2 separate regions of the Homo sapiens genome follow, and region 1 is linked to region 2. A link means that fine-mapping ties the variant in region 2 to the expression of a gene that starts in the linked region. Tissue or cell type: whole blood. Region 2 holds a variant in brackets; the other region holds the start of a gene. All regions are shown on one strand. Distances are between the middles of the regions. Region 1 holds the start of COQ2 (coenzyme Q2, polyprenyltransferase). Region 2 holds the start of LOC105377313 (a long non-coding RNA gene).

Evidence for each region.
Region 1: it holds the start of COQ2, and the variant in region 2 is fine-mapped to the expression of COQ2 in whole blood (TOPMed, PIP above 0.99). The same link has a PIP of 0.9 or more in neutrophils.

Annotation. Positions count from the first base shown.
Region 1 is chr4:83,281,206-83,296,163 of GRCh38, forward strand. COQ2 (coenzyme Q2, polyprenyltransferase) reads right to left here and starts at 3,593. Exons shown (of 7, transcript NM_001358921.2): 1 at 3,307-3,593. The coding sequence starts at 3,559. It overlaps HPSE (heparanase), which reads right to left. Exons shown (of 12, transcript NM_001098540.3): 12 at 11,256-14,298. The coding sequence ends at 14,139. RefSeq lists enhancers at 2,996-3,235, 3,431-3,725, 7,810-8,310 and a silencer at 3,296-3,625.
Region 2 is chr4:83,307,125-83,323,452 of GRCh38, forward strand. It overlaps HPSE (heparanase), which reads right to left. Exons shown (of 12, transcript NM_001098540.3): 2 at 15,095-15,240; 3 at 12,220-12,345; 4 at 5,990-6,163; 5 at 3,598-3,766; 6 at 2,907-2,954; 7 at 2,278-2,371; 8 at 1,721-1,827. LOC105377313 (a long non-coding RNA gene) reads left to right here and starts at 6,970. Exons shown (of 3, transcript XR_938944.2): 1 at 6,970-6,995; 2 at 9,324-9,427; 3 at 9,624-9,715. RefSeq lists enhancers at 8,953-10,152, 16,012-16,306 and a silencer at 14,275-14,468. The variant C/T (reference allele first, on the strand shown) is at 9,606.

The DNA.
Region 1 (14,958 bases), 27 kb before region 2:
AGTATAGTTCACAAGGGACAGAGGAGTAGCTGATCCTATCCTCCTAGGCTAGAGAAGAGAGAATACCACTTCACAGCTATTATTTCCTGGTACAATTAGAACAGAAGGTTCCACTAAAAAGAAAAAAATTCTAGACAGAAAGACGTGTAACCACTTATAGTGTTTTCTGTCAGGAACAAAACTTCCTTGGCCAAAAATCTGTATTAAAAGTACCGTATTCACTTACTGATAGGAATCTGTAGAGCTCCCCTACAGATGACAAGGGTTCCTACAGTGAAGGGGAAAGTAAGAAGACTTCTCAGTTCTATGTCTGCCACTTGTAAGTTGAGTGACACTAGACAGTAAAGTATCTTAAGGCTTAAGTCTTTGTTTCATCTGTAAATGAGGGAAGAGAACAGCTACCTCACAGAGTCGTTAAGAGATGACAATATTAATGATGTTATGACAACCGTAATAACAGATACATGGCACTTACTGTACCAGGTGGTTTCACAGAACACTTTTGACTCTCACAACAAGCCTATTCGATAGGCACTATTTTTATTACAACCATTTTACAAATACAGAAACTGACGCAGAGAGGGAGTAATTGTGCCCAAGACCACACAGGTAAAAAAAGGCTAAGGTGGTATTCCAACCCAGACAGTCTGGCTGCAGTCTGTGTCCTAAGTCCAATGCTGTCACTCTGTACTCCCTAAATCTCTCCATACACTTCAGTTTCACCTGTTCTTTTGTCCCTACTGATTCCTAGCAATGTTTTTTTTTTTTTGTCTTCCATATGACACTTTCATTCCCCATACTTTTCTGTGAAGAAAGACGCAGAGGTAGCAAAGACAAGAGACAAGTAGATTGCAAAAAGAAATGTTTTTGTAGAAAAGGGAAAAACTCTATGGGAGATGAAATAAAATGAGCAAGTTCTGAGGGGTGATGGACAGATCAAAAACAGATGATCTTCAAGACAACATAATCACCCATAAACGTGGTAAAACAAAAAATTACACTTCCAATTTGGTGGAAAGAGTGCCACCTGCTGACACTTTCTGGAATAAGGTAGTTTAGCCCATTTGAAAGAAGCTGTATTGCCTTCTCAAAAACAACGAAAACCTACTATTGATCAATGAAGGTAACAAGATATAACTTCAACAAAGTAAAACAACGAACACATAATTATCCCACAAAATAAGAATTTAAATAAAGAATTATCAAACCTGGAATTCTACTCCTGTCAATTATTGTTTCTGGCATATGGTAGGGGTTCAAAATACATTTGTTGAGCGAATTCTAACATAGTACTATTTAGTTTTCTGAAAAATCCTGTAATGATCACCTTATTTAGAACCAAACCATGCAGGCTGGTATCTTCCAAACATACACAATCTGTAAGTACAATTTTCTCCATTCCCCACTTCTAAGATAATAATGGCTATTTCTTCAGCACATATTATGACAGGCACTGTTCTAAGCACTTAACATATATTAATGAATTTTCGTGACCTCATAACGTCCATATTATCATTAATAGTATCTTCATTTTACAGATGAAAAACGGATGCCCAGAGAGGTGAAGTAATTTATCCAAGGTCCCTCAGATGAGCAGGGTGGAGGTTCACATCCAAGAGGTTTGGCTCCAAAGTTTTGCTCATAACCCCTTTGTTGCCTTCTGTTACATGGCGGAAGGTCCAGCCACTAAGATAGAAGCCAGAGGTTTAACTGGGGAAATGGGAATAATGGCAGATGTTCATCTATAAGGCTACACTGCCACTCCATGCCACAGACTCCAAGAACAGAATTACAGCCAGGCTTCAGATTGGAACTGGGCTTGGAAATGCATGCCTCTCAACGTGAATGTGGCCCCAAAACTCATGGGGGTCATACACAGCTTCCCAATGATGGCAGGGCTGTACCTATCATTCAGTAGGCTTTTATGCTTTGATAGCTGATTGTTATAACTTAGTGCTCTAATCCCAAATAGGTCGTGCATAAATCTAGAATACCAAAAGCAAGGCCTAATTCGGGTCTTGTACGGGCAAAAGTGGAGTAAATGTACCTAGGCCTTTGACTACATCTCCATACACTGCAATGGCAAATGTCATCATCTAGATTGGCTGGAGTTCATCCTTCACTTCTTCCTCCACGCTATCCAGCTTCTTCAGATATGTTCTTGTCTAGTCTCGTTTCCCATTTTCCACACCCACTTGGTGTTCCAGGTCAGGCTCGTATTCTTAGTGTTCTAACACTCCACCCTTGGGTCTTTGCAAAAGTACTTCCCGCACTAAGATCTCTTCCCTCCTCTGCAAAATCAACTTGTCCTTTGGAGTATAATTTCTTCTCGAAACTTTCCAGCAAGGGATCCACAGTAATTTCTCTTTTTCCTGTAGCACTTGCTTTTGTATCACTCATATTTGATCCATATTTTCCTAGCTCACCAAATAGTCTTTTTCAACTAGACCAGAGTTCCTTGAAAGCAAAGGGTTTCCATAGCTTTTTCTATCTCTATGGCCGGACAACGTAGTAGGAACTTATTAATTCACTTAACACTACTGGAGAAGCCAATCAATCAACAAGCGCATAAGGTTAGTTAGTGGTGAGTGCTATTAAGAAAAATTGCGGATAAAGCGATAGAAAGTGAGGTTGGTAGGTGTTAATTAAGATAGGAAGGTCAGGAAAATCTTTCTGTCGGGGGCGATTGTAAGCTGACAGGCAGTCCGTAAGCGCTGTCCCTGCTGCGTTCAAATGAATTAAATCTTTGCCTTATGGGTGATGCAGGTAAAAGAGCTCCGACTCAGCATCAAAACACAGAGTTCTTCTGGTCTGGCTCTGACGAGGAGCCTTAGTTTCCTCAGCGTCTTAACTGTCTTAAGGATTGTCTTTGTGGGCCTTACAAGATTGCGGGGAGGATCAAACATTCTAATAAATGAAGGAGGGCCACGAGAACGGAACCTTCCGCTTGAGTCACCATTTAAACAAGTGTTTGTGGAATGAGAATTATCTTGCCCGCTTCAGGTGCTCAGGATGCAGACAGACGTGAAACTGGCGGGTCCTTTAGGAGACTGTCCCGACTGCGTGTCCTGAGGTGACTCGCCCCAGGGCGCACGGCAGCCGGCAGCCAAGCTCAAGCTTTCAGGCTCTCATTTCAAAGTGTCCCGAGGTGATTCGCCCCAGGGCGCACGGCACCCGGCAGCCAAGCCCAAGCTTTCAGGTTCTCATTTCCATCACGCCCCGGCCGGCCGCCGCGGACAGCTCCGCGGAGCCGACTCGGAGGCTGCTACTTGCAAATTCCCGGGCTGCCCGCCCGCCCGCACTCACCAATGGGCTTGTCCAACCGCATGAGGCGCAAGTACGGCTGCAGGGGGCGGGGCGCAGAGTCCACCACCGCCGCCGCGGACAAACTGAGCTGGCGCCCGCGCGGCTCGGGACAGGCGGGGGGCTGCAAGTCACCACCGTGGGGCGCGCCTGCCGCACGCGCCAGGGCGAAGGAGCGGCCCCGCCAGCCCGGCAGCCACGCCAGTGCCACAGCCCGCAGGCCCCGCGCGAACCCCGCGGCTCGCGAGCCCAGCATGGCGCTGGTGAGGCCGGGACGAGCTCGGATTGACGTCATTCCCCGGCAGGCATGCGCAGTGGCACCCGCAGGATGCAATCCTAGTCTGCCAGGCTGGGCGGCGGTGTGGGCAGAACCTTTCCTCATCCTTACTTGTGAAATTGGGGTCATCGTGGTCGCTTACTCTAGGGAGGAATACTTAATGAAAAAGGGATTTCTATTGGCAAAAGGCAAAAAAATTACAATAAATTTAGTTGTAATTTTTTACAACTCGATCTTGATTGACTTTGTGGTTCCATTATCGGGCAACACTCAGAACGGGGTCTCTGAGGAAACAAACAAAAAATAGAATCGGGCAACACCTTATTCTGTAAAATAGAATAAGTGTTCCAAAGAGTCGAGCGGAGGAAGTTGGCTTTATAGACAGAAAAAGGGCTGAAGAAAGCAGAAGCAGAGAACAAAAAGCGGATTGGTCACTTCAAATTACTTTCATTGCGAGGCGGGGACAGGGAAACAACAACAGAGAAATAACGGATTGGTTAACATTAGGTTACACCAGGTTAAGGACTAAAACAGGAAACTTAATTGTCATGACGATTGCATTTTGAAATGGCCTGGTTGGAAAATTGGCTGTTGTCTCTCTTTCCTGACTTCTCAGAATGTCAGATACAACTTAGTTTTAGTTTGGTGACTTGGAACTTTAGCATGGGTGACTCTTGATTCTTAGTCTGATCTGTTGGGACCTAGTGCAGGAACTTAGTTCAAAACAATGGCCCCCTATAATTTAACCCTATTATCAGCTTTCTCCATAAAATGAAAAGGATAGTGTTTATTCATATGGAACAGTTGTACCAGGAAAAAAAAAAAAAAGCTTTGAAAAACCTACTGAATCCAAAAGAAGAATTTGCGTACACGTTTAGCCATAAAAAAAAAAAAGGGCACCAAGTGGCCACATACAAGACTGTAAATTAAAATCGCATTCAGGGTTAAGGGATGTTCATTACACAAGTGAAAATTTTAAATTTGACAGCCCTTCAAAGGAGTTTTTGTAATCAGTAGACAACCAGCATGTGTGATGCTAAGAACCTGAAGCTGAAAAGTCTGGTCAGCAGAGTCTTGCTCTGTCATCCAGGCTGGAGACCAGTGGAGGGATCATGGCTCACTGCAGCCTCCACCTCTTGGGCTCAATCGATCCTCCCATCTCAGCATTCTAAATATCTGGGACCACAGACACGAGCCACCGTGGCTGGCTAATTTTTAATTTTTCATAGAGAGGAGGTCTCACTATATTGCCCAGGTTGGTCTTGAACAGCTGGGCTAAAGAGATCCTCCTGCCTCAGATGGTCAGTACTCTTATTCATAAGCAACTCTGTATATCGCTGTGTGCCAGGCACTTTACATGTATCAACTCATTTAACCTCTCACTGAGTAACCCTAGGCAAGTCACTCATCTGGATTTTAATATTCTAGGAAGTTGACTTAGTCTTTAGGCTCCTTTCTGTAAAACATGTACAATGATTCTGTGACTTCTTGCATGGCTCAAGTACAGCAAGTTGGATGCCTGGCCACTTTGGTGCAATGAGGCAGGGGGTACCTAGCCTTTCTCCTGCCTGCAAAGAATAAAGGCCAGCAGGCAATTTAGTAACACTCCTAGTTGTTAGATTGGAGATGATTTAGATCTGACTCAAACCTGAAAAGGGTGTAATATCAGTCATGTATTGCATCCATGACTTTCCAATATAGGTCCAAACTCTTTGTTTAAAAAAATATATTAAGAATTTCAAGATGGCAACAGCAGGACATTAAACCAAGTACAAGGTCCTTCTTAGCGTAGGCCCTGGGTGACTGCACATGTACCCATGATGCTGACCCTGCCCAGAGGTGATTCAATCCTAAGATATTTGGTCCAATTAAAGTGCACAGGAAACTGAGATGGGTACCCACATGTCACTCTGCTAATTTGTAGGACAAGAGAACAGTCACATAGAGTAGAGCCCTAACTTTCAGGAGTCTCCTCTAGACTAATGCCAAGGCACAGTATGCCCTTGGGAAAGCCATTTAACTGCTGCAAACTCTTCAGAAAAGGAAGGGACTAGGCTTTCTCTAAAAGGGCCTGTAAGGCTCCGATTCCTCATTTTGTTTTTTGTTTTTTTTGAAGTGACTTTCTTTTTTTTTAAAATTTTATTATTATTATACTTTAAGTTTTAGGGTACATGTACACAACGCCAATTCCTCATTTTGGATTGGGCAGGAACTCATTTTGTTTTAAACCTATTACCCACAGGAACTGAAATGGTTAATTTTACATGTCAATTTGGCTAGGCCATAGTGCCAAAACATTTGGTCAAAAATTATTCTGGCCAGGCACTGTGGCTCACACCTGTGATCCCAACACTTGAGAGACCCAGGTGAGAGAATTGCTTGAGCCCAGGAACTCAGGACCAGTCTAGGCAACATAGTGAGACCTCATCTCTACTAAAAATTCAAAAATTAGCTGAGAATAATGGCATATGCCTGTGGTCTCAGCTACTTGGGAGGCTGAAGTGGGAGGATTGCTTGAGCCCCCGAGGTTGAGGCTTTGTGAGCCATGGTCATGCCACTGCACTCCAGCCTGGGTGACAGAGTGAGACCCTGTCTCAAAAAAACAAATAATAAACCTCTCATCTTTTTTATGGTGGCCAGAAGAATGAATTACAATGACTGACAAGGCTTTGGAAACAAGACAACCCCTCCCCACATCACAAGGACTGAAAAAGGTAATCAAATAGATTTTGCAGTATGTTCGAAGGTGGTAAGTGGTATGGAGAAAAGAAGAGTAACAGGGAAAAGTAGGGACAGGCTGTATGTATACTTAAATATGGTAATTGGGGTGGTAGGACAGCCCTGATCTCACTTTCTCAAAGACTTGAAGGAGATAAGGGAGTAGCTATGAGAGATCTGAGGGAAGAATATCACTAGATACTCTTAGAGGGATGTCTAGTGCAAGGGCCCTAAGATGGGAGCAAGCTTGAAGTGTTTTCTTAATAAGAGCAAGGAGGCCAGTGTGGATAGAGTAGAGTGAGCAAAAGGGAGAGAGATCAGGGATGAGAGCAGAGAGGACTAGGGACCAGGTTGTGTGGGGTCTTACATACCGTGGTAAGGACTTTGGCTTTTCTCTAAGTGAAATAAGAGGGAGCCATTGGAGGATTGTGAACAGAACAGAGACATGACCTGACTTCTATTTTATTTTATTTTCCTCTCATAGTTCTTGTCTCATACTGACTTATATTTTAAATAATTACTCTCAATACTGGGTTGAGAGTAAACTGTAGGCAAGCAGTGAGATAAGTAGGGATATTAGTTAAGAGGCTTATGAAGCTCAGGTTGGTAGCTTACACTTGTCATCTCAACATTTTGGGAAGCTGAGGCAGGATTGCTTGAGCCCAGGAGTTCAAGACCAGTCTGTGCAACAAAGTGAGACCTCATCGCTACAAAAATCTTTAAAAAAATTAGCTGGGCTTGGTGGTGCACTCCTTTAGTCCCAGCTGCTCAGGAGGCTGAGGTAGGAGGATCACTTGAGCCCGAGCGGTCAAGGTTGCAGTGCACACCACTGCATTCTGGCCTAGGTGACAGAGCAAGACCCTGTCTCAAAAAAACTAGACAAGTAAACCATTATTCTGGTTGTTTCTATGAAGGTGTGATATGGTTTGGCTGTGTCCCCATCCAAATCTCATTTTGAATTGTAGCCTCCATAAATTCCCATCTGTCATGGGAGGGACCCAGTGGGAGGTAATTGAATCATGGGGACAGGTCTTTCCCATGCTGTTCTTAAGATAGTGAACAAGTCTCACAAGATCTGATGGTTTTATAAAGGGGAGTTCCCCTACACAAGTTCTCTTGCCTGCTGCCACGTTAAGATGTGCCTTTGCTCCTCCTTCAACTTCATGATTGTGATGCCTCCCCAGCCATGTGGAACTGTAAGTCACTTAAATCTCTTTCCTTTATAAGTTACTCAGTCTCAGGTATGTCTTTATTAGCAGCATCAGAACAGACTAATACAGTAAATTGGTACTGGTATAGTGGGGTGCTGATGTAAAGATACCCGAAAATGTGAAAGCAACTTTGGAACTGGATAACAGACAGTTTGGAGGGCTCAGAAGGCAGGAAGATGTGGGAAAGTTTGGAACTTCCTAGAGATTTGTTGAATGGCTTTGACCAAAATGCTGACAGTGATATGGACAGTAAAGTCCAGGCTGAGGTAGTCTCAGATGGAGATGAGGAACTTGGGAACTAGAGCAAAGGTGACTCTTGCTATATTTTAGCAAAAAGACTGGTGGCATTTTGCCTCTGCCCTAGAGATTTGTGAAACTTTGAACTTGAAAGAGATGATTTAGGGAATCTGGCAGAAGAAATTTGTAAGCAACAAAGCATTCCAGAGGTAACTTGGGTACTGTTAAAAGCATTTAGTTTTATGTATTCACAAAGATATGGTTTGGAATTGGAACTTGTGTTCAAAAGGGAAGCACAACATAAAAGTTCAGAAAATTTGCAGCCTGATGATACGATAGAAAGGAAAAACCCATTTTCTGAGGAGAAATTCAAGGGGGCTGCAGAAATTTGCATAAGTAATGAGGAGCCAAATGTGAATCACCAAGACAATGGGGAAAATGTCTCAGGGCATGTCAGAGGTCTTCATGGCAGCCCCTCCCATCACAAGCCAGGAGGCCTAGGAAGGAAAAATGGTTTTGTGGGCCAGGCCCAGGGCCTTGCTGCTTTGTGCAGTCTTGGGACTTGGTGTCCTGCATCCCAGCTGTGGCAAAAAGAGGCCAACGTACAGCTCAACCCATTGCATCAGAGGGTGCGAGCCCCAAACCTTGGTGGCTTACATGTGTTGTTGTGCCTGAGGGCGCACAGAAGTCAAGAAGTGATGTTTGGGGACCTCTGCCTAGATTTCAGAGGTTGTATGGAAATGCCTGGATGTCCAGGCAAAGGTCTGCTACAGGGGCAGAGCCCTCATAAGAGAACTTCTGCTAGGGCAATGCAGAAGGGAAATGTGTGGTGTGGACCCCCACACAGAGTCCCCACTGGGGCACTGCATAGTGGAGCTGTGAGAAGAGAGCCACCATCCTTCAGACCCCAGAATGGTAGATACACTGACAGCTTGCATTGCACACCTGGAAAAGCTTTAGTCAGTTAATGCCAGCTCATGAAAGCAGTCAGGAGAGGGGCTGCACCCTGCAAAGCCACAGGCTGGGGCTGCCCAAGACCATGGGAACCCACCTTTTGCATCAGTGTGACCTGGATGTAAGACATGGAGTCAAAGGAGATCATTTTGGAGCTTTAAGATTTGGCTGCCCTGCTGGATTTCAGATTTGTATGGGACCTGTAGCCCCTTCGTTTTGGCCAATTTCTTTCATTTGGAACAGGTGTGTTTATCCAATGCCTGTACCTCCATTGTATCTAGGAAGTAACTAATTTGCTTTTGATTTTATAGGCTCATAGGGGGAAGGGACTTACCTTGTCTCAGATGAGACTTTGGACTGTGGACTTTTGAGTTAATGCTGAAATGAGTTAACACTTTGGAGGACTGTGGGAAGGTATGATTGATTTTGAAATGTGAGGACATGAGATTTGGGAGGGGCCAAGGGCGGAATGATACTGTTTTTCTGTGTCCCCACCCAAATCTCATCTTGAACTGTAGCTCCCATAATTCCCATGTGTTGTGGGAGGGACCCAGTGGGAGGTAATTGAATAATGGGGGTGGGTCTTTCCTGTGTTGTTCTCATGATAGTGAATACGTCTCATGAGAACTGATGGTTTTATAAAGGGGAGTTCCCCAGCACAAGCTCTCTTGCCTGCCACCATGTAAGATGTGCCTTTGCTCCTCCTTCAACTTCTGCCATGATTGTGAGGCCTCTCAAGCCATGTGGAATTGTAAGTTAATTAAAGCTCTTTCCTTTATAAATTACCCAGTCTGAAGTATGTCTTTATTAGCTGCATGAGGGCAGACTAATACAGGGTGTTTTAGGATGAAATTAACATTTAAATTGGCGGATTTTGAGTAAAGCAGATTGCCCTCCATAATGTGGGTGGGCTTCATCCAATCTGCTGAAGGCCTGAATAGAACAAAAGACTGACCTACCTCAGGCAAGAAGGAATTCTCCCAGCAAATGGCCTTTGGACTTGGACTTCAACTGCAACATCGGTCCTTTCCTGGGTCTCCAGCCTGCCAGCTAGCCTACCCTGCAGATTTTGGATTCAGCAGCCTCCATAATTGCTTGAACTAATTCCTTAAAATAAATCAGCTGGGCGCAGTGACTCACACCTGTAATCCCAGCACTTTGGGAGGCTGAGGTGGGCGGATCACCAGGTCAGGAGATTGAGACCATCCTGGCTAACATGGTGAAACCCCATCTCTACTAAAAATACAAAAAAATTAGCCGGGCTTGGTGGCGGACGCCTGTAGTCCCAGCTACTGGGGAGGCTGAGGCAGGAGAATGGTGTGAACCCGGGAGGCAGAGCTTGCAGTGAGCCGAGATTACGCCACTGCACTCCAGCCTGGGTGACAGAGCAAGACTCTGTCTCCAAAAAAAAAAAAAAAAAAACTCTTTATATCTTTATATATATCCTATTGGTACTGTTTCTCTTCTCTAGAGAACGCTAATGCAGAAATGTTGCACCTAGTGGATGGAGAATAAATTCATTCATCCCACAAATATTTGTTTAAATGGTGCGTCAACCAGAACATTCATTCCACTTTACATGTACCCTTCATTTTAGCAGATTTACATGTTTGAAGCACTTCTACATTCATATTTTTCGTCTCTACTATGTTTCATCTGATTTTTGTGGTTGGCCCTAGAGAAGGTGTTTTAGGTTTAAACAATATTTATTGGTCAGGTGTGGTGGCTTATGCCTGTAATCCCAATACTATGGGAGGCTGAGGCAGGCAGATCACTTGAGCCATGGAGTTCAAGACCAGCCTGAGCAACATATCAAAACACTGTCTTTACAAAAAATACAAAAATGCATGGTGGCATGCACTTGTAGTCCCAGCTACTAGGGAGGCTGAGGTGGGTTGAGCCCAGGAGGCCTAGGCTGCAGTGAGCCATGAGCATGCCATACCACTGCACTCCAGACTGGGTGACAGAGTGAGACCCTTTCTCAAAAAAAGAGAGAATAGAAAAGAAAATATTTATCGTTTGACTCCCAAATGAGACGTTAAAGTGACTTTCAAGCTTAACAAATACAATCATTAACTATAATTGCTTCCGGCCTTAAAATAATTTTATGTGAAACTGGTGTTCTTTGTAGAAATTGTAATTGACAATAATGTGACTATAAAATGATAGCTGATGAGAAATAAGAGAATAATAAGAGACAAATTTTGGGAGGCATCCCCTACAATTCTTGGTAGTGCTGGTGGAACTGAACGCTCATTGCCCACAGCAGCAAACTCAACAGCAAAAATTAATATTGGTTTTTTCTTCACTTCCCTCTCACACTCCCTGTTCTTTCATTCCTTATTCCCAAATAACCCACCTGACCCAAGTCCTTGTCTCAGACTGTGCATTGGAAAACCCCCACTTCTGATCCTGATAGTATAACAAGGGGTGAAACAACACACTAGTGGTTCTATATCCTGTTTCCAGGTATAAACAAAGCAGTGAAGGAAAACAAGGCTTCCAAATGTAGGAGTCTGTAGGCTTTACATTACTAAAAGAATAGTCATACAATATCAAGATTATAAAAATTACTTTATTTCAAATGTGAAAATATAAAAACCACTTACATATAAAATTTAAGAGTATTGAAAGATCTAAAATTTAATTTTCAGCTTTAGCTCCTTACAAATATACTTAAATTGAATGAAATTGAATGGAATTAACCTAAGTGTCCATCAACTGATAAGTGGATAAAGAAAATGTGGTATATATGTACCATGGACTATTACTCAGCCATAAAGAAGAATAATGTATTTTGCAGCAACTTGGACGGAACTGGGGGCTGTTATCCTAAGGGAAGTAACTCAGGAATGGAAAACCAAATACTGCATGTTCTCACTTATAAGTGGAAGCTTAGCTGTAGGTACACAAGAACATACACAGTGGTATAAGGGATGTTGGAGACTCAGAAGGGAAGAGGGCGGAAGGAGGGTAATGGATGAAAAATTACCTATTGGGTACAATGTACATCACTCAGGTGACAAGTACATTAAAAGCCGAGTCTTCACCACTACACAATTCACCCCTGTAAGCAAAAAGTGTGTACCCCTAAAGCTATTAAAATAAAAAATTTTAAAGATACTATATCCATAACAGGCATACATTTGAAGAATATTAATCCTTAAGAGGGGAAAATAATTACATTTTTTCACTGGTAAAAAGCGCAGAACTGCAGTGTTCAGTTTGTAGACTGACCAACACCCTCTCCATTCCAAAGGGTTACTCAGAGACAATTATAGGAACCTCGTTGTTGTTGGCAGTGACTGGTGAAATGGCCACATTACCCATTTCTGAACAATAAGACATGAGGAGACATGAGGAGAGGTTTGCTGTGAGAAGCTCTGAAAAAGAGTTATTCAAGTCTATGAAGGAGACTCAAAAAATGGCTCATTTTCTTCCTCTGGTTGCTATGAGGTTTGAAGGGGCCCATGAAACAGCTACAGCCATCATGCTACCAGAGTCTGAGAATGAAGCCAGCGCTAAAGATGGCAGAGCAGAGAGCTGGGAAGAACCCAGATCCCTGGTGACGTACTGAAGTGCTGGAGCCTGGCCTGTTTGAACGTCTAGTTATGTGGGAATATACATTTCCTTATTGCTTAAGCCATTTGAATTAGGAGTTTCTGTTACTTGCAGCCAAAAGCTTCCCAACTGAAACAAGGAAGAAAGGTAGAGAAAAAGCAAGCATTAACAGACAGTTATAAGGTATTGGGTGTTTTCTAAAATTTATCCTCTTGACAAATCAATTTCATTTATAGTAATTTTAAGTTTACAGAATCTCCTCGCCTCTGAATTGTCATTAACCATTTTTTATACTATCATATCTAACAATCTGTCCTCTCACATATTATTGCTGACAAAGAAAACCGAAAGAAGAAAATCAGCAAAATCTAGCTGTCTTTTAAGGTGCAAATAGATAGTTTCTCTTTTACAACCAGTTTCACGGTAACGGCAGTATGCTTTTTCTGATGGGTGCCTGTAGAGATGGCACATGAAGGAAAGAATTCTAAAATCTTCTAATACATTTTGAAAGATAAATATACAGCTAAGCACCTTCTTAAAACTCATAATATATCCTTCGCTTCCTTGCTTCCTGACCATATTAGGAGCATTCATATACATTTTTAATAACTTGTTTTTTTGAGATGGAATCTCTCTCTGTCACCCAGGCTGGAGTGCAGTGGCACAATCTCGGCTCACTGCAACCTCTGCCTCCTGGGTTCAAGTAATTCTCCTGCCCCAGCCTCCCAAGTAGCTGGGACTACAGGACCACACCCAGCTAATTTTTGTATTTTTTAGTAGAGATGGGGTTTCACCATGTTGGCCAGGCTGGTATCAAATTCCTCACGTCAGGTGATCCATCTGCCTCGGCCTCCCAAAGTGCTAGGATTACAGGTGTGAGCCACTGCGCCCAGCCATTTTTAATAACTTTAAATAAAGACTGGTTGTGGTGGCTAATCGCTGTCCCCACAGGTATTATAGTCTTTCGCTGACTAGCAACACTGCACAGAGGTAACATCAAATGATCTCCTGCTGTACCATGCTGTACTCCCAAAGAAATCCCAGCACCTGGAAGGCCAAGGTGGGAGGATCAATTGAGTCCAGGAGTTCAGGACCAGTTTGGGTAACATAGCGAGACCCCATCTCTACAAAAAATTTTTTAAAAATAGCCAAGTGTGATGGCATGTGTCTGTGGTCCTAGCTACTTGGGAGGCTAAGCAGGAGGATGACTTGAGCCCAGGAGTTAAAAGGCTGCAGTGATCTATGATTGCACCACTGCACTCAAGCCTGGGCAACAGAATGATACCCTGTCTCAAAAATAAAACACTGCTGGGTGTGGTGGCTCACACCTGTAATCCCAGCACTTTGAGAGGCTGAGGCGGGTGGATCACTTGAGGACAGGAGTTCGAGGACAGGAGTTCGAGACCAGCTTGGCCAATATGGCGAAACTCCATCTCTACAAAAAATATAGAAAGTAGCTGGGCGTGGTGGCACACGCCTATAATCCCAGCTACTCAGGAAGCTGAGGCAGGAGAATTGCTTAAAGTTGCAGTGAGCCAAGATCGCACCATGGCACTCCAGCCTGGGTGACAGAGAGAGATTCTGTCTCAAAATAAATAAATAAATAAATAATAAAACAAAACAAAACTTTAGATAAAAGTAAAACATGCAAAATGCTAAGCAGTATTTGGAACAAGGTATTATTAGCTATTATTATTAGCAGTGTTCTACCTAGCGAGATCAAAATACTGTGCTAAATCTAGCACTGACAGTGTCCCAGTGTCTCTCAAGCACCCACTAGTTGCTTTGCAAGGTATCTGCTTCCTTTCCTATAACTTGAGTTGCTTTACTCTTAGTATACTTGAAAAATTCAGTGTCAGGACTAGTATATTTTATTTTCAGATGCAAGCAGCAACTTTGGCATTTCTTATCACAAAAAAACTATATGAGAAAGCTGGCAAGCCCAGTGAACTTCCTGGCCGGAGAGGTTTTTCCATTAAAGGTGGCAAGGTTTGATCATCCACCATCTTTAGAGTTAGACCATTGAGTTGGACAGATCTGCAAAGGAGAAAGATACACCGAGTTAACCAAGTGGTGCATGCCCCACCCATGCTGCTACAAAAGTCATGAAATCTTTTTTAGACCAAATAAATTTTTTTTTGTGGCAGCCTATATTATATAACTTGTATTTCAACACTATATCACTTAGGCATTTGACCTAGATAATCTTTAAGCTACAATGGCAGGGATGAGTAGTTATGATAGAGACCATATGGACTCCAAAGCCAGAAATACTTACTGTCTGGCCCATTACAGAAAATGGAACACACACAATCTATATACTAGGCAATATGATGGTGGTATAAAAAGGATAAACATGACACAACTTCTGGAATGGTGGCTATTTTATTTAATGGCCAATAATTGAAACCTTTTTTATGTAAAGAAAATAGATATATAGAATTGAATGCAGTTTTTATGAATTTAGCATAAATGGTAGCCAATGAAATTTCTCACTTGTAACTATGCCCATAAACTGCCTAACTCCCCTCTCCCTGCAGGAGGTATGCATTCATTTTCTTACTGTTATTAAGAAATTTTGGTAGAATGCTGTGGTGAAACAAAAACAATTTGGCTAAACTACAGAAAATTTTATATTTTCTATGTATTTCACTATTGGAATTCAAATTAAAAACTGTTGAACGTTCTTAAAAATTA
Region 2 (16,328 bases):
ATCCTCGAATGTTCGGGGAGACTGATTTGAGTAATAATAAAACTCTGGTCTCCTGCACAGCTGGCTCTGCATAAATTACTCTTTCTCCTTTGCAATTCCCCTGTCTTGATAATTGGCTCTATCTAGACAGCAGGCAAGGTGAACCTGTTGGGTGGTTACAGGACCACAAGTGCATGCCACCATGCCTGGTTCTGGTTTATTGATCTTTGAGGGAGGAATTAACAGGAAGCCAGAAAAGTGTCATCAATTATAAATAAGTCATTTAAATGAAATGGCAACTGCATGCAGCAGCAGCAGCAGCAGCAGAATCCCTCCCTTTACATCTTTCCATATGATAACAAATCCTAGAAGACTATTACCATGCTAGAGGTATCCCTTTCAGGGTGAGACAAATTCCCACCTCTATAGACAATTCCTGGTCCTATGAGGTCCCTGCACAAACAATGTGTGAGGGCTGAAGAAAAAGTGGCAGTCAGCGGGGGTAAAATGTAAAATAAGCAGAATTGCACCTAAGCTATTATGGACACCTCTTCCCACTTCTCCTTCTCTATCCCCCTTCTCCCCGACACCCCAGATCTTTAGTTAATGGCAAAACAAACATCTCCATTCTTTATTCCTCTTGCTTCCATGGGCATAAAGGATTTGTGATGTATTCTAGGCTTATAAGAATGAGGATGAGAGAAAAAAGAATGAAGATGGAAGAGAAAAGAAAAAAAATCTCAATGTGAGGATATAGCAGTATAGATTAAAAGCACTAATAGAGTTACTAAATGTAACTAAACCAGTATTTTAAAGCAATCAAGTTTGTGGTGTTGGACAATGAGATGATTTAACAAATCTTTAAATTTAATGATAGCCCCTCTGGTGGGACCTCATACTTTAGGCTCTAAACTTCTTGGGAATCTATGAATTATAGCTACATACACTAAGTATCCTCCTGAGAGACAAAGCTGTAATATGCTCTAACTTGCATTTTTTTTTTTTTTTAAGAGACAGGGTGTGGCCGGGCGTGGTGGCTCATGTCCGTAATCCCAGCATTTTGGAAGGCTGAGGTAGGCAGATCACTTGAGCTCACGGGTTTCAGACCAGCCTGGGCAACATGTCAAAACCCCGTCTCTACTAAAAATACAAAAATTAGCCCAGTGCGGTGATACTCCTGTAGTCCCAGCTACTCAGGACGCTGAGGCAGGAGAATCGCTTCAATCCGGGAGGCAGAGGTTGCAGTGAGGTGAGATCGTGCCACTGCCCTCCAGTCTGGGTGACAGAGGGGAAAAAAAAAGACAGTCTCACTCTGTTGCCCAGTCTAGAGTGCAGTGGCACCATCATAACTCACTGCAGCCTCAAACTCCTGGGCTCAAGCAATCCTCCCACCTTGGCCTCCCAAAGTATTGGGATTACAGGGAACTACCATATCCGGCTATATGCATTCTTTTACAGTGTACTTCTTTAGAGTAAGGACTACTTGACATATTTATGGGCCATAATTAAAGGCCAAAATTTCTGAAACAATTCATCCTTATAGTGATTAATTTGGAACACTTGTTAAAGATGTCCCTCAAGCTTTAGTAAATCATTTTCTTGCAAAATCTGGCATGAATTTTGGGGCTCAGCCACTGAAATGGTCTTTGATCTGCTTTTTGGCTGGGGAGCTATTTCAGCAGAATAGAAGGATGGAGAAGAGCTGCACTCTGACCCCTAAGGCCAGCGCTGCTTCACTCACATAAAGCCAGCTGCAAAGGTGTCGGATAGCAAGGGCGCTCCGCCTCCATATGCAGAGCTTGTTTCTCCTAACCAGACCTTCTTGCCAGGCCTGGTGCTCTCAACCACCTATAGAACAGAAAAGTATCCATGGTAATTGCAAAAAAGCTGACCTGTGGTTTCAACTGTGGTGTTGAAGATTAACAGCATTCAAAACTTTGTATTCCTAGACCCACCCCTCCTATATAGTTATAAAATATGTTCATAGTCATTTAGGTCTTGGGAAACTTTCTTTTATTGAAATAGTAGGCTGTGGAAGGAACATGAAGTGAACCAACCCATTCTTATCATCTATGTGAGTTAATTCTACTAAAGGCTATTGGAAATATTTCAAATTTCTAATCACGTACATGGGGTAAGACCCAATGCTAAGGGGAAAACTAACAGTGGATAAGTCATAGTGCTTGTTCTCTAAAATTAGAAAAACATGTAAATATACATACCTATAGAATTTAGAACTAGCTAGACTATAAAATAAGGATTCTGGTTTTACATTAAAAAGTTTAAAAAGACTATTACCTGGAAAACTTTTTGCACAGATGAAATAAAAATGTCCAATACATCAGGGTTTAGAAAATCTTCCTTGGTAGCAGTCCGTCCATTCAAATAGTAGCTAAATTACACAGAAAATATTCAGAAAAAAAATAACAAATTTTACTTTCTGCTTTTAGGTTAATTGCTGACCTTATTCTCCTTCTTACCTCTCCCACTCACCTGTTACTAAAAAAAGGTAGAAGTTCTACTAGGGAAAGACCAAGATGGAAGGGAGTTATGAGGAGGAGTCCATTCTATGCAAGTAACTAGAAATCAGTTACTCTGTCTTGAAAAAACACAGTGGCAAGTACATGTACTCCTGGGTTACTGGTTCTTTGGCAAGCAATTGGTTTTAGCTACTTATATGTTCCATGGGTTAATTGGCACTGTTCTTCTGTATAAAGTGATCTTTATAGAAACCACTACATTATTTAAAATAACTTTAAATTTTTTTTATTAATATTAAAATTGGAGTACAGTGCTACTTGAGACACTATTTGTTTCTTATTTGAACTGCAGTCAATTGGCAGTTAAATGAACTAACTTTTTGAATACTAGGTAATAAATAAAGCTAGCCTTACTTTCCTAGTATTAAGAATAGGAGACATACTTACTGATGCCATGTAACTGAATCAATCACTTCTCCACCAGCCTTCAGGAAGCTAGAAAAAAAATTTTATTATCACTCAGTCATATAATACATATATATGCACAATATACGCATGAGAGTTTTATTCCCTAGAAATGGGCTGGTTACTGCTTTAGGATCAGGTAAACACAAACTTCCTAATTTTGATAGCAAATTTTATCATAGGTGACATTTGCCTCAGATCCCTTGATATTCTGAACCCGTCAAAATTTCCTTTTTTTGGTAAATCATGTATTCAGGCAGCAGATTGTTTAATAACATGTGGACTATTGAGGATTGTCTACCAGAGAGAATCTTTTTTTTTTTTAAGAAAAGTGGTGGCTGGGTGTGGTGGCTCATGCCTGTAATCCTGGCACTCTGGGAGGCTGAGGTGGAAGGATGGCTTGAGCACAGGAATTCAAGAGACCAGCCTGGGCAACACAGGGAGACCCCATCTCTACAAAAAAATTTTTTTAAAGTAGCCAGGTGTGGTGATGTGCACCTGTAGTCCCAGCTATTTGTGGGACTGAGATGGGAGGATTGCTTGAGCCTGGGAGGTCGAAGTTGCAGTGAGCCATGATTGTACCACTGCACTCCAGTCTGGCTGACAGAGTGAGACTCTGTCTCAAAAGGAAAAAGAAGAAAAGTAAAGTGATTCTGCATCCTCTAGTTCCTACCTCTTCAGCATCTTAGCCGTCTTTCTTCGAGGCTGACCAACATCAGGACCATAGAGTTTTGCATTTTTGAAGGTGGACTTTCTTAGAAGTTTATGCAATTGAATAAAATCTTCTCCTAACTGCGACCCATTGATGAAAATATCAGCCTTCTTAAGGAAACTGTTAGGTTCTGAAAGACAGCAATTCTCAAAATATATATCGAGAAATGTTGTATTTAAAAGCAAACATATAGCAGTATTTAAAAGCAACAAAACATTTTCCAAATTACAAAAACTTGTAATTCAAAGTCAAGAAAAGTAAAACCAGGTCTGGCGCTATGGCTCATGCCTGTAATCCCAGCATTTTGGTAGGCTGAGACAGGAGGATCCCCTGAGGCCAGGAGTTTGAGACCACTCTGGGTAACATAGTAAAGCCCTGTTCCATGGGGAAAAAAAAAAATTAGCTAGATGTGGTGGTGCATGCCTGTAGTCTCAGCTTGGGAGGCTGAGGGAGAGGATCACTTGAGCCCAGAAGGTCGAGGCCATAGTGAGCCATGATCACGCAACCGCACTCCAGCCTGAGTGACAGAGCAAGCGTCTGTCTCAAAAAATAAAATAAATAAGTAAAGTAAAACTCAAAGTTATAAATAAGATACTCCAGAAAAACAAAACAAAAATTTTAACTGTATAACTGAGATATGAGGGTCTATTAAACAATTTGAAGTTAATAATGAGGGTAATAAACCAATGGATATGGATATCTGGGAACTAGACTATATTCCATATCTAATAACTTCATTTACTTTGGAAAAAAAGGTTTGAGACCGGGCACAGTGGCTCATGCCTATAATCCCAGCACTTTAGAAGGCCGAGGCAGGAGGATTACTTGAGGCCAGGAGATCGAGACAAGCCTGGGCAACACAACCAGACAAAAGAAAAAAAATTGGCTAGGCATAGTGTAGTCCTAGCTAATCAGGGGGCTGAGGTGTGAGAGATTGCATGAGCCCAGGAGTTGGAGGTTACATTGAGCTATGAACACGCCACTGCACTCCAGCCTGGGTAACAGAGCAAGATCTTGTCTGAAAAAAAAAAAAAAAAAAAAAAGTTTGAGCAGGAAGAAGACTTGTGCTTATCCTATTACTACATTTCATTTCCCATTTAATCCTTATTTCCATTGGCTGATATGTGGAAAAAGCACTCTATGTTTTGAATAAATGTGGCGAATCATGAATACTTATAGTTAAAATTTACAAGTTCTTTGCAAAAAAAGAGTGAAGAAGGAGACAGTCAGGAGCTTGACCCACGTAGGATTCTATACTGGCAAGTTCTAGACCGTTTGGGCAGGTAATGAAGGTTGCAATGGGGTTACTGAGATTAACTGACACATTTGAGAAAATGAGAAAGGAAGGGATGAATAAAACAAACTGCTGACTTCCCAGTTTTGCTGAGTCCAGCTTGCCAAGCATAATAGGGTTAAGTGATTCTGAAAATCTCAAGGGAACTTTGGAGCTGGGAACGTTGCTGGCTCCAACTGGTTCTCACTTCAAATGTAACATAAACTGGGATTAGCAATAATAGGTTCTGGAATAAATACAGTAGGAGTTTCTGCCACATGCACTTCCAAAAGTTGCATTGTTGAGCACTTGCAAGAATGTGCCCAGGCAGAAGTATATTTGCTAATAATAAAAAGAGTGTTGGCCGGGCGCAGTGGCTCACGCCTGTAATCCCACCACTTTGGGACGCCGAGGCGGGCAGATCATGGGGTCAGGAGATAGAGACCATCCTGGCTAACACGGTGAAACCCCGTCTCTACTAAAAATACAAAAAAATTAGCCGGGCGTGGTGGCGGGTGCGTGTAGTCCCAGCTACTCGGGAGGCTGAGGCAGGAGAATGGCGTGAACCTGGGAGGTGGAGCTTGCAGTGAGCCGAGATGGCGCCACTGCACTCCAGCCTGGGCGACAGAGCGAGACTCCGTCTCAAAAAAAAAAAAAAAAAAGTGTCATAAGAAATAATGCTAGCCGGGCCTGGTGGCTCACGCCTGTAATCCCAGCACTTTGGGAGGCCGAGGAGGGCAGATCACGAGGTCAGGAGATCAAGACCATCCTGGCTAACACGGTGAAACCCCGTCTCTACTAAAAATGCAAAAAAAAAAAAAAAAAAAAAAAAAAAAAAATTAGCTGGGCGCGGTGGCGGGTGCCTGTAGTCCCAGCTACTCGGGAGGCTGAGGCAGGAGAATGGCGTGAATTTGGGAGGCAGAGCTTCAAGTGAGCCGAGGTGGCGCCACTGCACTCCAGCCTGGGCAGCAGTGCGAGACTCTGTCTCAAAAAAAAAAAAAAAAAAAAGAAAAAGAAAAGAAAAGAAATAATGCTAGTGGGGGATCTCCTTATTAATGAATTGTTCCCTGGGGTACTCACCATTGCCTAGTTCCCAAGAAATGTTATACCCCTTGGAAGAGCAGTAGTCCAGGAGCAACTGAGCATTAGAACTGTTCCACTGCAAATCTGCTGTTCTTAATAACGCATTTAGGCCAAAGATCAAGTCCAGTCCTGAGCAGTTTGCAAAAGTGTATAGCACATCTACAGAGCTTCCTAAAAGAAAAACGTCACAATTTAATGGTTAGATTGGCACCACAATGAAGGCCTCCAGATTCGCTTTTCATAATGAATAACTATTTCTGTTGTTAAACTGAAGAAATTCTAGTTCTAATAAATGATTATAATTATGTTTTTGAGACAACAAAATTGGACAAATTAAAAAAAATCAATCTGACTTCATTTGCTCCAGCTGTTGAATGAAATCCCATGGAAGATACCAGAAGCTCTGGTCTGACACTTAGGTTTTGTTCAAGTGACATCAGGAGAATTGGGGAAGCCACAATTTATAGCTCAGTGCTCCACATGCATAGCCAGACTGTCATTAGTTAGCATAAACCCCACTCTTCATAATCTAAATATCTCTAGTCACAAGTTCAGTTAAAAAATATTTTGATAATTTTAATTATATTTAAAACAATTTTTAAAAAAATTCCTGTTATGATTTATTAATTTAAAATGAATCAAATTTTACATTAAAAAATTGGCCTAGAGTTATAGGACTATGGTTTCCAAACTCTGTGCAAGGCAAGCTGGGGAGCACCAGTGAATGCATGGGTACAGCTACAGGATTTAGCAACTAAAAGTGCAGGGCACCTAGTTAAACTTGAACTTCATATAGACAATAAATAATGTTTAGTGTATGTCCTATGTAACCATTAAGAAATACTTCGCACAGGGGCCAGGTGCAGTGGCTCATGCCTGTCATCCTAGCACTTTGGGAGGCCGAGGCGGGCGGATCACTTGAGCCCAGGAGTTCAAGACCAGCCTGGGCAACATGGCAAAACCACATCTCTACAAAAAACACAAAAATTAGCCGGGCATGATGGTAAGCACCTGTAGTCCCAGCTAGCTACTTGGGAGGCTGAGGTGGGAGGATCACCTGAGCCCAGGGAGGTCAAGGCTGCAGTGAGCCATGATCATGCCATTGCACAGCAGCCTGGGCAACAGAATGAGATCCTGTCTCAAAAAAAAAAACAAAAAAACAAACAAAAAAAAAAGTAAAGAAAAGAAAAATAATTAACATGAAAAAAATTATTTATCTGAAATTCAACTCTAACCAGGCAGTGCTATTTACAGAGGCACTGTAGGATCTTTTAAGTTTGCAAGGAAAAAAACATCAACATCTATTGGACAGCATTACTATTGGACCTATTACTATTAGGTTGTGTAGACCTTACAATTTAATAATCAAAATACAGGTATTTTTTGTGGCCTAGGCATGCTTTAAAAAGTTTTCTGCGATATTAAGGTGCCATAAGTTTGGGAACTTCTGTACTCTGCTTTTTAAACCATTAGCTGTTCTATTACCACTTTTTGAGAGTGGCAACAATATAATTTTAAGTGTTGTCTTTAAATTGATTATCATATGCATAATAAGTCCTTCCAATTTTCATGTATATCTATAGTCGTTTGTTAAAGAGTAATTCATTCCTGAACTCTTGTAGTTAAAAAAGAAAGATCTCTATCTATCTGGCAAACTTACACCCTTTCTCCTTAAAAGTGGCTTTTTGTTTTGTTTCTAAGTCTTTGGCCTGAATTACTTGAATAACTATAGAATAATATTAAATATTAGCTATTTAAGCTGAGTGCAGTGGCTCATGCCTGTAATCCCAGCACTTTGGGAGGCTGAGGCAGGTGGATCACCTGAGGTCAAGAGTTCGAGACCAGCCTGCCCAATATGGTGAAACCCCGTCTCTACTAAAAATACAAAAATTAGCTGGGTGCAGTGGCATGCACCTGTAGTCCCAGCTACTTGGGAGGCTGAGACAGAATTGCTCAAACCCGGGAGGTGGAGGTTGCAGTGAGCCGAGATTGTGCCACTGCACTGCAGCCTGGGTAACAGAGCAAGACTCTGTCTCAAAAAAAAAAAAAAAAAAAATTAACTATTTAATATTAACTATAAAGACCACTAGGCAGAAACAACTCTTGCAAGCTGCTTTAGGTATTTTGATATTTGCTGTGTCACCCACTTCCATAAACTGCTGCCTACCATCAAGGAATGACAGACATTTGGGTTTGAAAAGCTCTCTAGAGTCCTGTGACCCAGCATTCTACTGGATCTTAGAGCCACAGTTTAAGGCAGTATGGAGGCTTTAGGATCATCAGCCTATGCTTAACCTCCACCCTCATTTTTCTAGGAGGAAACTGAGATTCAAATAAGGTAAGTCTTTGCCCAATATCACGCAGCCGTTTGGTGGCAGTACCATTACTAGAGTCTGTTACAAGGGGTGAGTGACCTGCTTTAGTCACACATTATAGGCTTTTATATTGCAAAATCATGTTGTAGGAAGTGCCCTGGATCAGAAATCATAAGACTTGAGCTCCAGGCACAACTCTCCCACTTATAGACTATAATATGAACAGGGGTAATATCTTTGCCCGACAGGAACCTCAGATATGGATCTAAAGTCCTGGGACAAGCACCATCACATGCCTTCGCCATAAAACCAAGGTTGAAATGACACATGTGAAAACTGTCTGTAAATCACAAAAAACCCTTACAGCTAAATAGCACTTTGTACTAGCCCTGAACAAAGATTATAGCATTTTCAAAAAACCTGGAATGCTTGCACTCATACTTTACCCTTCCTCCATTTCTTCATTCTTCCAAATGCACTTGGAATTTACATAGCTCGAAATTCTATTATACACCCCCTATAACATAATCAACTGTAACATCTCCTGGAATAGAGGCTATTGACGACTGAGTTCAAATCCATTCTTTTTTTCTTTTCTTTTCTCTTTTTTTTTGAGACAGAGTATTGTTCTGTCGCCCAGGCTGGAGTACAATGGCATGATCTTGGCTCACTGCAACCTCCACCTCCCGGGTTCAAGTGATTCTCCTGCCTCCACCTCTGCAGTAGCTGGGACTACAGGTGGACGCCACCAAGCCCGGCTAGTTTTTGTATTTTTAGTAAAGATGGGGTTTCACTGTGTTGGCCAGGCTAGTCTTGAACTCCTGACATCAAGTGATCCACCTGCCTCAGCCTCTCAAAGTGCTGGGATTACAGGCGTGAGCCACCACGTCTGGCCACATCTACTTTAAAAAAAAAAAACAAAAAAAACAGAAGGACCACCTAGCCTACTCCTTACTCAAAATACGAAGAACAATTTAAAACTTACAATTCATTATCTTATTCCCAATCCTTTCCAGACTCTCATCTCTTACTGTATAAAGAGTGGAGAGATCCTTGGAATGAAGATAACCAAGATGACACATTGAAAAAAATGGCAGATCTTTCCCTTGGACTGTACCATGTAAGTCTATGTCAGCATCCAATGTGGGCCTGGGTGTAGGCAACGGAAGAATGGGGTGATGAGGGGAACAGGAGGAGAAGAGGAAGTACAAAGAGTTAGCTCACTCAGGATGACTACTTTAATAAGGGAGTCATCCTTTCTGCAGTCACACCCGGAATTACATCTGTAACACTGCTTC[C/T]TTTTCCTGCTCAAACAGGTTTAAAATGTGAGTCTATATTCTCATGACAAATGTTTTTGTCATCTTCTACTTAAGTGGAACGCACCATACAAGAGGACCTGTGTTAGAAAACTTACCTGTATCTTCTGGGACACCCGTTTTTTTGTTGTTGTTGTTTTTTGTTTGTTTGTTTTTTGTTTTTGTTTTTTTGAGACAGAGTCTCACTTTGTCGCCCAGGCTAGCGTGCGGTGGCGCAATCTCGGCTCACCACAACCTCTGCCTCCCAGATTCAAGTAATTCTCCTGCCTGCCTCCTGAGTAGCTGGGACTACAGGCGCCCGCCACCATGCCTGGCTAATTTTTGTATTTTTAGTAGAAATGAGGTTTCACTATGTTGGCCAGGTTGGTCTCGAACTCCTGACCTCAGGTAATCCACCCGCCTCAGCCTCCCAAAGTGCTGGGATTACAGGTGTGAGCCACAGCACCCAGCCTGGGACATGTGTTTTAAGGGTGCAGGCCACTAGCTAAGCAATGAACATGTCCTTATCTCAGCAGCCTTTTGCTACCTCTTCTTTTGTGGTATGTCCCCATGTCACTCAGCCATTACCAGTCTCAGCCACAGGTTCAGAACAATTTGTGGAATCCCCTATTAGCTTCTGAAATATTTGTCACTACAATGAGTAGGTGCCCAAACTAAACACAGAAGATTTCTGTTTCCATGACGTGCCCATGAAAACTGAAAATTTCGAGCCAGAAATCAAATGTTTACAAATGCAAATAAAATTCTGTGTTTGTTGTACCTTTTAGCATTGCCAACAGGGTGGCTGGACTTACACTAACTAACCTGGTTGCATAGTTAGCAAAGGAAGGCATTTCCCCTGGTGTAGGAACTATGAAAGCCAAGTCCTGGAGTTGGAAACCTACCATTTTGGTAACAGAAAGATCCTGTAAAGTAGTAAAACTTTCTTAGAAATGTAAGATACATTGGTATAATGTTTAATGCGACCCCCCAAGACTCACCTATATCTTCCGGGACATGTGTTTTAAGAGCAAATCCATTAATTACCTAATACAACTGGGTCTTCTCCTAGCAGAGCTATAATGATTTATTACAAATGTGGCCTTACTTCTGTGGTTCTCTGGTATGTGTCATTCCTTTAATGGGATCTGAAATGGCCCTGCCTCATGCCAAATTCCAGTCAATAATTAATTACACTTATTAAAGTGTCAGAGTAGATCGCCCTCTTAAAAATGCAAAAAAAAGTTTTTTAGAGGACAACATTAGCTATTAGCATATGCGCTATTTTTTGATTTCTTATGGAACACATTTTTTTCTGTACCATATACATAAAAAATGTACATAAATTTGAAATCCATCTGATACATTGAACTCCAGGTAGTATACAGTAAAATCTTACAAAGATAATTAATTAAAATAATATACTTTAAATAATGTTAACTAACCCAAACAAAGTATAGTAACTTCAAGATCATTTATTTTCAAAAGTCAAAAGAAGAGCTTGAAGTATCTGAGCAGGTTATTTCTTTAACTGAGATATGGGAACATCATCCCTCAGTGGGGTATAAACATCAAACTTCAGATAAAAATATATTTCATAGTTAAAAAAGGATTGTGGCCAGGAGTGGTGGCTCACGCCTGTAATCCCAGAACTTTGGGAGGCTGAGGTGGGTGGATCACCTGAGGTCAGGAGTTCGAGACGAGCCTGGAGCCTGGCCAACATGGTGAAACCCTGTCTCTACTAAAAAATACAAAAAATTAGCCGGTCGTGATGGTAGGCACCTGTAATCTCAGCTACTCAATAATCAATAATATGATCGGGGGTAATACCTTTACCCTACAGGAACTGAATAATCAAATATTCCTCATAATGAATAGGAGGCTAAGGCAGGAGAATCTCTTGAACCTGGGAGGCGGAGGTTGCAGTGAGCCAAGATTGCGCCATTGCACTCCAGGCTGGGCGACAAGAGTGAGATTCCATCTCAAAAAAAAAAAAAAAAAAGGGGGTTCCTTGTTTCACTTGCTTTAAAGCCCCATGTGACAATGTCATCCTAATTTGAAGACTGGAAGACTGTTTTAGTGACTGAAAACATACTAATGGGTAGCTGAGCTAGCCCTGTGTTTGCAAAAGCCACAGAGGAAACAAAAAGAGAATGCTGCTTGGTGGCCAAGACTGTCTGGAGTGACTCAGGGCCCTCCTGCCTAATGCTCTAAACCAAGGCATACTGGGGGTTATTTCTGGGAGGGGGACGGACCTCAAGGTATGAATGATGTTCATGTTTTGCCCTTTATATGTCTGTATTTTAATTTTACATGAGGAATATATTCATGTTTTCCTTGACTCCGTAGTTTTTTAGAGCACTGAAGGTCATTGTTAGATCATGAATGATTGATTTATCTTTCATTCTGTGACTACTAAGCAATGTCAGATGAAGAAAAAACAAACAAAAAAAAAACCAAAAAGCAAGTTTTGAGTTTAGGATTTCCCATTTGGGAAATGCTTCAGTATTTTCAGCTTTATACAACTTCCGTAGGACTTGCTAGATTGGTGCCCGAGTCCAACCTATTCAAATATCTTTGGGGCTGGAACATCTCTAGGGTGCCTTTCATTTCTTACTTGAGTAGGTGCTGTTCTTGAACTTTTTCTGGTAGTGTTCTCGGAGTAGCAATTGCTCCTGGTAGGGCCATTCCAACCGTAACTTCTCCTCCACATCAGGAGGGATGGATCCATATTTGCAAATATCTGCAAGTGGAAGAGATCATTTAGAAGGTCTGTTTTCACAGTGAGCAGACTGAAATCGCATATATTTATTTAGTTAGCTATTTATGTGACTAAAGCAGGATAATTAAGTTCTGGTTATGAGGTAGGAGAGCAGAGAAAAGGTATATTCTGTAACACATGTCAAATTTGCCGGCTCATGAATTACCACAAAGAAAACAACCAAGGGCAGGTTTCCTAAGAAATATTGAACATACACTGAACATGGATATGTTGGACATAGCTACAAGTTATTTAACAATTCAAAGGGCTCCTCAGAAGCTTGAAATTACTGGCCGGGTGCAGTGGCTCACACCTGTAATCCCAGCACTTTGGGAGGCTGAGATGGGCGAATCACTTGAGGTCAGGAGTTCGAGACCAGCCTGGCCAAATGGTGAAACCTCGTCTCTACTAAAATACAGCTACTCAGGAGGCTGAGGCAGGAGAATCACTTCAACCCACGAGGCGGAGGTTGCAGTGAGCCGAGATCACGTCACTGCACTCCAGCCTGGGTGACACTGGGCGACAAAGCGAGACACTGTCTAAAAAAAAAAAAAAAAAAAAAAGCTGGAAATTACCAGAGAACTCTAATGAAGAAAACATAGTGCAGTTCTCTTAAGGTTCACTTTCAAAATCCATAGCAATTTGTTTTACATGGACTGTATCTGCAGTGTGGTGTTTTCCTCTTGCCATCATGGGAGGTAGGATGGGTGGGAACCGTTGACTTTTTTTCGCTTTGAATTTGGTACCATCAGAGCTTCTGGGACCACAACATGTGCACTTGAAAAAATCCACCCTGGTCAGGCACAGTGGCTCACGCTTGTAATTCCAGCTCTTTGGGAGGCCAAGGCAGATGGATAGCTTGAGCTCAGGAGTTTGAGACTAGCCTGGACAACATAGTAAAACCCTGCCTCTACTAAAAATACGAAAACTTAGCTGGGCGTGGTGGTGTGTGCCTGTGGTCCCAGCTACTCGGGAGACCGAGGTGGGAGGATGCCTTGAGCCTGGGAGGCAGAGGCTGCAGTGAGCCAAGATCCCGCCATTGCACTCCAGCCTGGGCGACAGAGCCAGACCCTGTCTCAAAAAAAAAAAAAAGAAAAAAGAAAAATCCACACCATCCTGTCAGGCAGACCATTTCTTTATCACAAGACAGCAGGGTTGCCGGGTGCTGGCTGCCAGGGCCGGCTGACTGGCTGATGACTTCCTTTCTGGAAAGCTGCACACTGACTCGCTGGCGGCTGGTGCCTCATCCATCCCTGGGCTCACAGAGGATGTTTCAGAGGAACTTGCATAACCCCAGTTTCCCCCACCGACCATCCCCCTAGACACAGGATGAAGAAAACTGATGAGCAAAGGACAGTTTCCTGTCTACATTTATGAGATCTTTTGGACACAAATGACTGGTGGGAAAGGGCCAAGTCTAAATAGAAACTAGGTTGGGTGTGGTGGCTATGCCTATAATCCCAATACTTTGGGACGCCAAGGCAGGGGGATCACTTGAGTGCAGGAGTTTGAGATCAGCCTGGATAACATAGAAAGACTGTCTCTACAAAAAATAAAAAAATTAGCTGGGTGTGGTGACATGCACCTGTGGTCCCAGCTACTCAGGAGGCTAAGGTGGGAAGATTGCTTGAGCCCAAGAGGTCAAGGCTGCAGTGGGCCATGCTTGTGCCACTGCACTCCAGCCTGGGCAACAGAGTGGGACTCTGTCTAAAAAAACGCCCCCAAAACAAAAAACAAACCCATAAACAACTCCAACCTGGTATTCAAAGATAACCCATCTGTCTTTTTCTATTTTCTCTGATTACTATTCTGTCAATTTAGCCCCAATTACTGATGAATTGTTCTAAATACTTCATAACTGGATAAAATAAACAGAAGGAAAAGATATAATATATGAAATAATCAAATATTCCTCATAATGAATATATACGTTATATACACATTATTATAATTCAGTGGTGTATACAATATTTTCAGTATTTTTTTCTCTTTAAATTATTAAAAAATAGAGACAACGTCTCTCTATGTTGCCCAGGCTGGTCCCGAACTCCTGGGCTCAAGTGATCCTCCTGCCTCAGCCTCCCAAAGTGTTGGGATTACAGGTGTGAGTCACTGCGCCCATCCTAGTAATTGTTAAGATACGATTTAACTTCCATTTGATGTCTGATAGCACTTCTGAAAGACAGGACAAATTTTCATGGCCCCCTAGGGCAGGTTTCTCAGGTGAAGGCCACAGCCTTTCAATATCAGAATCCCCTGACAAGCTTGCTAAAATCAGAATCTAACGTTGGAGCCCAGAAGTCCACAGATCTCGTTCACCCATATTCTATATTTAGAATAAATATCCTTCAATCTATCATTGTGTCTTTGGCTAGAAATGCTCTTTAGTTTGACGCGATTCTACCCACTTGCTCCCTCCAAGCAGTTCTATCCTTCAGCTACAATCACTGTTTTATTAATATTTACTGTACAATGAGCTCTCAGTTATATCCAGGACGCCTTTTTTTTTTTTTTTTTTTTGTGAGGCCTCACACTGAACATGACAAACATCATGATAAGGAAACCTGCCCACTGCCTCCTCCTCTTGTTCAGATTCCTCCACAGGTCAGATGAGGGGAGAGGAAGTTAATCTCATTAATTGTTAGGTGTGAGAAATAACAGTTTTCTCAAAGCATTCTCATGACGGACTGACGTTAATTAAAATATAGAGTGAATCTTTAAAAATTTTCACCCTGGTTGACTTGAGATTGCCAGTAACTTCTCTCTTCAAAGGTTGATTCCTTCTTGGGATCGAAAATTAGGAAGTCTGTCTTGGTGCCACCAAACCTCAGGTACGCAGGAGACAAGCCTCTGGCCAAGGTACGAAGCTTTGGAGAACTGTTAGGAAGACAAGCAAGAAAGTATAACTATTTTTTCCAAGACAATCTAGTCAAACATTCTTACTTCCTTCTTTCCTGGTGGACCTATTTCTTAACATTTCCCTGTGCAGGACTTAGAGGAGGAAATCACATTGTTTTGTTTTTGAGACAGAATCTTGCTCTGTTTTCCAGGCTGGAGTGCAGTGGCGCGATCTCACTTCACTGCAACTTCTGCTTGCCGGGTTGAAGCAGTTCTGCTTCTGCCTCCTGGGTAGCTGAGATTACAGGCAGTATTGTTTAATTTTTATTTGTTTTCTTATTGGGCATGATAGAAAGGGAATCATTGTTTAAAAGAGGAAGCATCTCAATCTGAATCTAATTGAAGGACTGATCTTCTAGGAACCTGAGGGCAATTTGTAGCTCTAATTCTGGCAAGAGCTTGTTTGTGTGTGTGTGTGTGTGTGTGTGTGTGTGTGTGTGTGTGTGTGTGTGTTTGTGTGTGGAGGGATGGGGTCTTGCTATGTTGCCCAGGCTGGTCTCAAACTTCTGGCTTCAAGTGATGCTTCTGCCACAGCCTCCCAAAATGCTGAGATTACAGGCATGAGCCACTGTACCCAGCCAGGAGCTTATGTTTTAACTTGACAAGTAGGATGGTGTTCAACACTTAAAAAAAACTCATAGCCTTTTATGATGGATGGGGAGAAAGAAATGATAGAATAGAAACTAAGGGAAAGACAGCTCTGTGTCTGTCTGAAAAATAGATCGTCCGAAACTATGGGACAGTAAAAAGATCAGCGGTTACCAGGGGCTGGGGGTGGAAATGCAGAGAGGGAGGGATGAATAGGTGGAGAACAGGGGATTTGCAGGGCACTGAAAATACTCTGTATGTTACTATAATGGTGGATACATGTCATTATACATTTGCTCAAACCCATAGAATGTACACCGACAGTGAACCCTGCCGTGAACTATGGACTTTGGGTGATAATGATGTGTCAGTGTAGGTTCATCAACTAGAACAAACACCTCTCTGGTGGGGATGTTGATAATGAGGGAGGCTATGCATGTGTGTGGGCAGGGGGTTTATGGGAAATCTCTGTCCTTGCA